2 linked regions of the Homo sapiens genome follow. The protein of the gene in region 1 purifies or fractionates together with the protein of each later gene. This does not show direct contact. Each region holds a gene or a part of one and is shown on either strand. Other genes may lie near its edges. The genes, in order: NELFCD and IGHMBP2.

Evidence for each region.
Region 2: the proteins of NELFCD (region 1) and IGHMBP2 purify together in Homo sapiens (affinity purification with mass spectrometry; one large-scale study listed by BioGRID and IntAct). This does not show direct contact.

Annotation. Positions count from the first base shown.
Region 1 is NC_000020.11:58,987,639-58,991,449, forward strand, and holds part of NELFCD (negative elongation factor C/D), read left to right. Parts: intron 1-69; coding exon 70-179; intron 180-1,275; coding exon 1,276-1,383; intron 1,384-1,849; coding exon 1,850-2,002; intron 2,003-2,219; coding exon 2,220-2,350; intron 2,351-3,271; coding exon 3,272-3,437; intron 3,438-3,673; coding exon 3,674-3,808; intron 3,809-3,811. UniProt on the Homo sapiens protein: Essential component of the NELF complex, a complex that negatively regulates the elongation of transcription by RNA polymerase II.
Region 2 is NC_000011.10:68,917,140-68,920,950, forward strand, and holds part of IGHMBP2 (DNA-binding protein SMUBP-2), read left to right. Parts: intron 1-596; coding exon 597-744; intron 745-3,811. UniProt on the Homo sapiens protein: 5' to 3' helicase that unwinds RNA and DNA duplexes in an ATP-dependent reaction. Specific to 5'-phosphorylated single-stranded guanine-rich sequences. May play a role in RNA metabolism, ribosome biogenesis or initiation of translation.

The sequences.
Region 1 (3,811 bases):
ATTTGCTTTCTAAAGCCACACAGTGAATGGACAGCTTGCCATTGTCTAGTTGCTTTTATTCTCTTTCAGGTGTTGAGCCAGTGCAGGTTCAGGAAACTGTGGAAAATCACTTGAAGAGTTTGCTGATCAAACATTTTGACCCCCGCAAAGCAGATTCTATTTTTACTGAAGAAGGAGAGGTGAGAAATTATTTTTCTTTGCCTAGTACCAGGCCCTAGGGTCTTTTGCAAATTCCCTGTGTACAGTGGAGCGTGGCATATCATGTAAGTAATGGCAGAGTTGAGGACTAAAATCAGAGTGTGAGACAGAAGTTGCATCTAGTCAGAATTGCCCTTTAAACTCTGTACCCAGGGTCGTGACATGCTTGCACGCAAGAGGCACACAGGTGCTGAGATCAAGAGAATGAACAGCAAGTTCCCACCATTTCCCCTCTCAGGCTGACTCCAGGGCACAGCCCTTGGAGTGTTGTGGTGGATTCGTTTGGTTCCTCCAAGAAGCAGCTGCCAAGACAGGGCTAGGCCTGCAGGAGATGATGGGGAAGCGACTATGAGGGAAGATGGGGTAGGGCTGGAGGAGGCTGGGGTAGCTGTGATGCAGTCTGACCCTTGAGGGCAAGAGAAAAGGAATGAGGGTTAGTAGGAAGAATGTTAGGCTGCAGTGCAGTTTCCAGAACGTTCCAGCCATATCAGTGGGGAATCTTTAAGCCACAGGTGCCCATTCTGGGAGCCCACGTCTCCTGGACAGGCCTGCTTTTGAGGCCCTGCTGCATTCCATCTGTGGCTGGGAGCAGCCTCGGGGAGCTGGCCTTGGCACAAACAGGATGGCAGGTTCAGAGCACAGTCCTTGAGGACATCCGTCACATAGGAGAGCTGAGAGAAATGTTTTTCTGGCTACTCCATGTGGTGATGGGCCAGAACACCTGTGCCATTTAAATGGCCTCTTTCTCTTTTGCTAAGGGCATACAAGCTGGGGCAGCATGAGCTCCCTGTGTGTGCAAGGCAGCTCTATGCGGTTCTCGGTGTCTCCTAGGAAGCAACTTTCAGTACCCTCCTGTGTTGAGTCCGATTTTCTAAAAGCTGAGCGGGCATCTAGGGACCTTTCTGTCACTCAGCCGACTGTGTGGCTGTGGCCAGCTCTGGGTCTGCCTCCCCCAGAACTAGATGCCCATGGGGAGTCCATCAGCACCAATCTCCTGTGATCGTTTATACAACAGAATCTCCACTCAAGTAAAAGTGGGGCCTCCTCCTATCTTGCTGTTTGTGTGTGTGTTGGCAGACCCCAGCGTGGCTGGAACAGATGATTGCACATACCACGTGGCGGGACCTTTTTTATAAACTGGCTGAAGCCCATCCAGACTGTTTGATGCTGAACTTCACCGTTAAGGTAGGAAGAGTTCTAGAGTTAAGGAGAAAAGTGTTTATGAATGTTTATTTTTGGTTGTTGGTCTGTTTCCTTTGACAGTTCATATTTGCTTTTTTTCCATAAAGGTCTTTATTGTTTTATTTTCATAAGCCTTACACTGAGAAAGAAAAGTGTAAAATTTGTATCTGTTTTTGGGTCAGTGTTGACTGTGTTTTAGGATTTAGCAGGGATACAAGAATTCTCTTGTGGTTGGAGAGGAGCTTTAGGCGTGCCTGCTTGATCTTCCTCTTGCATATGAAGAAACGATGGAGAGGTGGTCAGCCCAGGGCACACACCTAGGTGATAGCAGGGTGAGGGCGGAGTGAAGGCCTGAGACCCACGACCAGCGCACACTTACTCCACCTCACCATGAACACTGACAAGCCAGCTTCCCGTGGAGGTGCGGTCACTGCATGCCTCCCCTCTGACTTCTTGTTTTGTGTCCTAGCTTATTTCTGACGCAGGGTACCAGGGGGAGATCACCAGTGTGTCCACAGCATGCCAGCAGCTAGAAGTGTTCTCGAGAGTGCTCCGGACCTCTCTAGCTACAATTTTAGATGGAGGAGAAGAAAACCTTGAAAAAAATCTCCCTGAGTTTGCCGTAAGTTCTTTCTTTATGAACCTCAGATTAGAAGGAGGCTGCTTTGGGTCTTGGTTTTCAAGCATGAGATGCTCCTTCCCTGGAGAGAATCTCCATTTCTGAGGGCACCTTCCAGGATGCTCACTCCCGGGCCCGAGCACGGTGGAGGCTTGGCTCTCGTCCGCCCGTCTGTGCTACAGTAGTAAACCCTGCCCCCTCTCTCCCTGCAATCTTGCAGAAGATGGTGTGCCACGGGGAGCACACGTACCTGTTTGCCCAGGCCATGATGTCCGTGCTGGCCCAGGAGGAGCAGGGGGGCTCCGCTGTGCGCAGGATCGCCCAGGAAGTGCAGCGCTTTGCCCAGGAGAAGTGAGAGGCCCTGTTTCTGCTCAGCCCTTCCTTCCTAGTGCTCCCCACAAAACCCTTCCCATGGCCCGTGTTCCACAGCCAAAGCTGCTAGCTCCTTCTGTTCAACGTAGAGGTAAACTTGCTTTTGGCTGGGCGTGGTGGCTCACGCCTGTAATCCCAGCACTTTGGGAGGCCGAGGCGGATGGATCACCTAAGGTCAGGAGTTTGAGACCAGCTTGACCAACATGGAGAAACCCCATCTCTGGTAAACAAAAATACAAAATTAGCCGGGTGTGGCGGCACATGCCTGTAATCCCAGCTACTTGGGAGGCTGAGGCAGGAGAATCGCTTGAACCTGGGAGGTGGAGGTTGTGGTCAGCCAAGATTGCACCATTGCACTCCAGCCTGGGCAACAAGAGCAAAACTCTGTCTCAAAAAAAAAAAAAAAAATTAAAAACTTCCTTTTATCCAGCAGAGCTGGAAAAGTTGGAGTTGTTTTTGGTATACTTGGAGAGCTGGCTTTCTAAAGTGCTGCTTTGAGGACTGTTGTGTAAAGCACTTGATTCGTCTTCCCTTTGCTGGAGTTATGGGCCTGGGCTTTTACACTGGGGTTCTGAAGTAACAAACAAAGTCAGTCCAGAAATAGTTGCTCAGCAATCTCATTGTTACAGTGTCGCAAAATGAGCTCATATTAGCTTTATTTTCTGCTACCAATAGAGTGTTCCTAAGTATTTAAAGTGTGTGACTCCTTTCTTATAGAGCCAGCAAGCTGTATTGGAATCACTTTTCCAGTGTTGTAAATGTTATTTTTGTGGGTCAGTCAGTATACTCGTGAATGACAGAAAAACAGATCCCAACAATGCAAAGTATTATATGTGTAAAAAAGAACAGAAAAAAGAAGCTGCCTTGTTAGTAACGGGGTCTATGGTTTTTCTCATCAAGAGGTCATGACGCCAGTCAGATCACACTAGCCTTGGGCACAGCTGCCTCCTACCCCAGGGCCTGCCAGGCTCTCGGGGCCATGCTGTCCAAAGGAGCCCTGAACCCTGCTGACATCACCGTCCTGTTCAAGATGTTCACAAGCATGGACCCTCCTCCGGTTGAACTTGTAAGTTGCTTCTCAAGAATCCCCAATGTCAGCTGGTAAGGTGACTTTGGAAAGTCTGTGCTTGTCTGATTGTCTGAAGGCTGTGAATGCAAATCCATCATTGTCCTGGTCCTTCCTCAGTCACACTCTCTGCCTGGAGCCTGTTGGGCCCCTGCTGTGTAGGGAACCCTGAGGGGAGGTGGGTGAGCAGTGCCCTCACGCCTGCCATCCCGAACTGGGCATATGCTTCTCCTCAGATCCGCGTTCCAGCCTTCCTGGACCTGTTCATGCAGTCACTCTTTAAACCAGGGGCTCGGATCAACCAGGACCACAAGCACAAATACATCCACATCTTGGCGTACGCAGCAAGCGTGGTTGAGACCTGGAAGAAGGTA
Region 2 (3,811 bases), on another chromosome or scaffold:
GCTAATTTTTTGTATTTTTAGTAGAGACAGCGTTTCACTGTGTTGGCCAGGCTGGTCTCGATTTCCTGAGCTCGTGATCTGCCTGCCTCGGGCTCCCAAAGTGCTGGGATTACAGGCATGAGCCACCGCGCCTGACCAGTTCCATCTTTTTGAGATATTAAAGTAAGTTGAGGTTTTGATTATGGGTTGAAAAAATTTTTTTTAATCTCTTGAAAAATGTAGAATAATATGTGAAGCTCAGTCTCTCTATTCGTAAGCTCCTACAACCCAAATCCTGGGGCGGGCAAGCGCTTTTTCTTCCCCAAGATCAAATGCCTGTGTGCAGGGCAGGGCTGGTCCAATTTCTGGTCTCCTCTGAGTTAAAAACGTGGTCTCTTTCCAGGACTTAAAATGTCTCTTCCTGTGACTTCAAGGCAAGTGAGGATGTAAGGTGCTTAGTTGCGTGTGTGTATCTGTGTCTCTTTCAAGGAAGATTTCTGAGTGTTTTTTACGGAGTTTATTGAACTGGACTGAATGATAGAAGCACTTCATAAATAGAGTTGAAGAAGTACAAAGTTGGACTGAAGTAAGTGTATCTCCTTTGTTTTTCTTTATAGGTGAAAAACAAAAAGACCCAGGATAAGAGAGAGAAAAGTAATTTTCGAAATGAAATTAAGCTGTTAAGAAAAGAACTGAAGGAGAGGGAAGAAGCAGCTATGCTCGAGAGCCTCACTTCGGCAAACGTGGTCCTTGCAACAAACACAGGTGAGGGGGCGTCTCCATCCTGCCTGTGTGGCCTCGAAGAAGGAGTTGGGGTGTGTTCCCTCTTCTGTTTTCTGGAAGAGTTTGTTTAGAATTGGTATTTCTTTCTTAAAAGTTGGGTAGGGTTCACTAGGGAAGGCCTCCGTACCTGCAGTTTTCTTCATGGAGAGGTTTTGAACTACAAATTCAACTTCTTCAATAGATAAAGGGCTGTTCAGGTTGTTTTTCTTCCATGAGCTTGTAGCTTTCAAGAAGTTTGTCCATTTTATCTAAACGGTTGAATTTAGAGGCATGAAGTGGTTCCTAATATGCCCTTATTCTTCTTTTACTGTCTGCAGGATCTGTCATGATATAACCTGTATTATTCCTGATACTGGTTTGTGTGCTCTTTTTTTTCCTGCTCTTCTGGCTGGAGGGTTTTTTTTTTTAAATTTAGATTTTATATATACATACATATATATTTTAAGAGACAGGGTCTCTGCCAGGCGCAGTGGCTCACACCTGTAATCCCAGCATTTTGGGATGCCAATGCGGGTGGATCACCTGAGGTCAGGAGTTTGAGACCTGCCTAGCCAACATGGTGAAACCCCATCTCTACTAAAAATACAAAAATTAGCCAGGAGTTGTGGTATGCACCTGTAATTCCAGCTACTTGGGAGGCTGAGGTAGGAGAATTGCTTGAATCCTGGAGGTGGAGGTTGCAGTGAACCAAGATCGCGCCACTGCACTCCAGCCTGGGTGACAGAGCAAGACTCCGCCTCAAAAAAATAAAAACCCCAAAACCAAAAAAACAAAGCAAAACAAAAAAAGAGACAGGGTCTCACTATGTTGCCCAGGCTGGTCTCAAACTCCTGGGCTCAAGGGATCCCCCTGCCTCAGCCTCCTAAAGTGCTAGGATTACAGGTGGACCCACCGCGCCCGGCCTGGCTGCAGGTTTCAATTGATCTTCCCAAAGAACCAGCTTTTGCTTTTTCTCTATTGTTTTTCTGTTTCATGTATTTCCACATTGATCTTTATCGTTTTCTGTTTTCTTGGGCTTGTTCTTTTTCTTGCTTCTTAATGTAGAAGCTGAGATCATTGATTTGAGACCTTTCTTTTTTTCTGATACGAGCATTTAGCTCCATAAATGTCTCCCTAAGTACTGCTTTTGTGGCATCCCACAAATTCTGATCTGTTATATTTCATTCATTTCAAAATGCTATCTCATTTGCCTTTTGGTTTTTTAGAAGTGTTATATAGTTTCTAGATAGTTGGGAAATGTCCAGATATCTTTCTGTTGTTGATCTCTCCTCTCCTCTCCCCTCCCCTCCCCGTCCCCGTCCCCGTCCTGTGTGGGATCTCACTGTGTTGCTCCTCTCCTCTCCTCTCCTCTCTTCTTCTCTCCTCTCCTCATCCCTGTCCCCATCCCCATCCCCGTCGCCTTCCCTATCCCCATCCCCATATGGGATCTCACTATGTTGCCCAGGCTGGACTCAAACTCCTGGGCTCAGGTGATTCTCCCAGCTCAGCCTCCTGAGGAGCTGGGGCTCCCTGCATGTGCCACTGCACCTGGCTTACTTTCTGTTATTGGTTTCTAATTTAGTTCCATGTGGTCAGAGGACATACTCTCATGACTTGGATAGTTCATCGAGACTTACTTTATGGTCCAGAATCTGGTCTCTGTCTTTGTGAGTGTTCCATGCACACTTGATAGAACGTGTGTTCTGATTTTATTGAGTGTTCTGTAAGTAGTCAGATCATGATGGTTGATGATGTGGTTCAAGTCTGCTGTATTGAGAGAGGGACGTTGAAATCTCTGAATATAACTGGACATGTCTGTTTTTCCTGCAGTTCTATTGGTTTTTGCTTCATATCTTTGGAAACTCTTTTACTGGGGTCATAAATGTGGGGCTATGTTTTCTTGATTAATTAACAAATTTATCATTATGAAATGACCTTCTTTATCCCTGATAATATTCTTTTTTTGAAATCTACTTTGTCTGACATTAAAATAATCATTTCAGCATTTCAGCTTGCTTTTCTTTTCATTATGGTCAAAAACCTGTAAAATTTACCATCGTAACCCTTTTTAAGTCTGTAGTACAGTAGCATTAATTGTATGCATGTTGTTGTACAGCAGATCTCTAGAACATTTTCATCTTGCAGACCTGAAGCTCTGGATCTGTTGAACAGCAATTCCCTTTTTCCCTGTCCCAGATCCTGGCAGTCACCATTCTCCTGTCTGTTTCTAAGAATTTTATTATTTTACATACCTCAAGTAAGTGGAACCATGCAGGATTTGTCGTCTTGTGACTGGCTTGTTTTATTTAGTGTAATGCCCTCATGGTTCATCCATGTTGTCCAGCTTTCTTTTTATTTTTAAGAGACAGGGTCCCAATCTGTCACCTAGGCTGGAGTACAGTGGTGCGGTCAAAGCTGTACTCCAGCCTTAACCATGAATGTGGGACCTCCAGCAATCCTCCCACATTGACCTCCTGAGTTGCTGGGATTAACAGGCGTGAGCCATTGCACCCAGCCCCCACCTTTCTTTCAACTAGTGTTAGTGTGATCTATCTTTATCCTTTTTCTTAGAACCTATTTGTGTCTTTATGTTTAAAGTGATCTTTTAAAAAATATTTGAGACACGGTCTCACTGTGTTACCCCTAACTGGAGTTGCAGTGGTGCAATCATGGCTCCCTGCAGCCTCAACCTCCTGGGCTGAAGTGATTCTCCCACCTCAGCCTCCTGAGTAGCTGGGACAACAGACACGTGCTATCACACCCTGCTCATTTTTTTGATTTTTAATAGAGACAAGATCTCACTGTGTTGCCCAGGCTGGTCTGGAGTTCCTGGACTCAAGTAGTCCTTCCACCTCTGCCTCCCACAGTGCTAGGATTACAAGTGTAAGCCACTGTGCCTGGCCTGTTTATTTCTTTTTAAAGAGAGAGTCTTGCTCTGTTGCTCAGACTGGAGTGCAGAGGCGTGATCATAACTTGCTGTAGCCTTGCATTCTTTGGCTCAAGTAATCCTCCCACCTCAGCTTCCCGAGTAGCTAGTACTGTAGGCATGAGCCATTACACCTGGCTAATT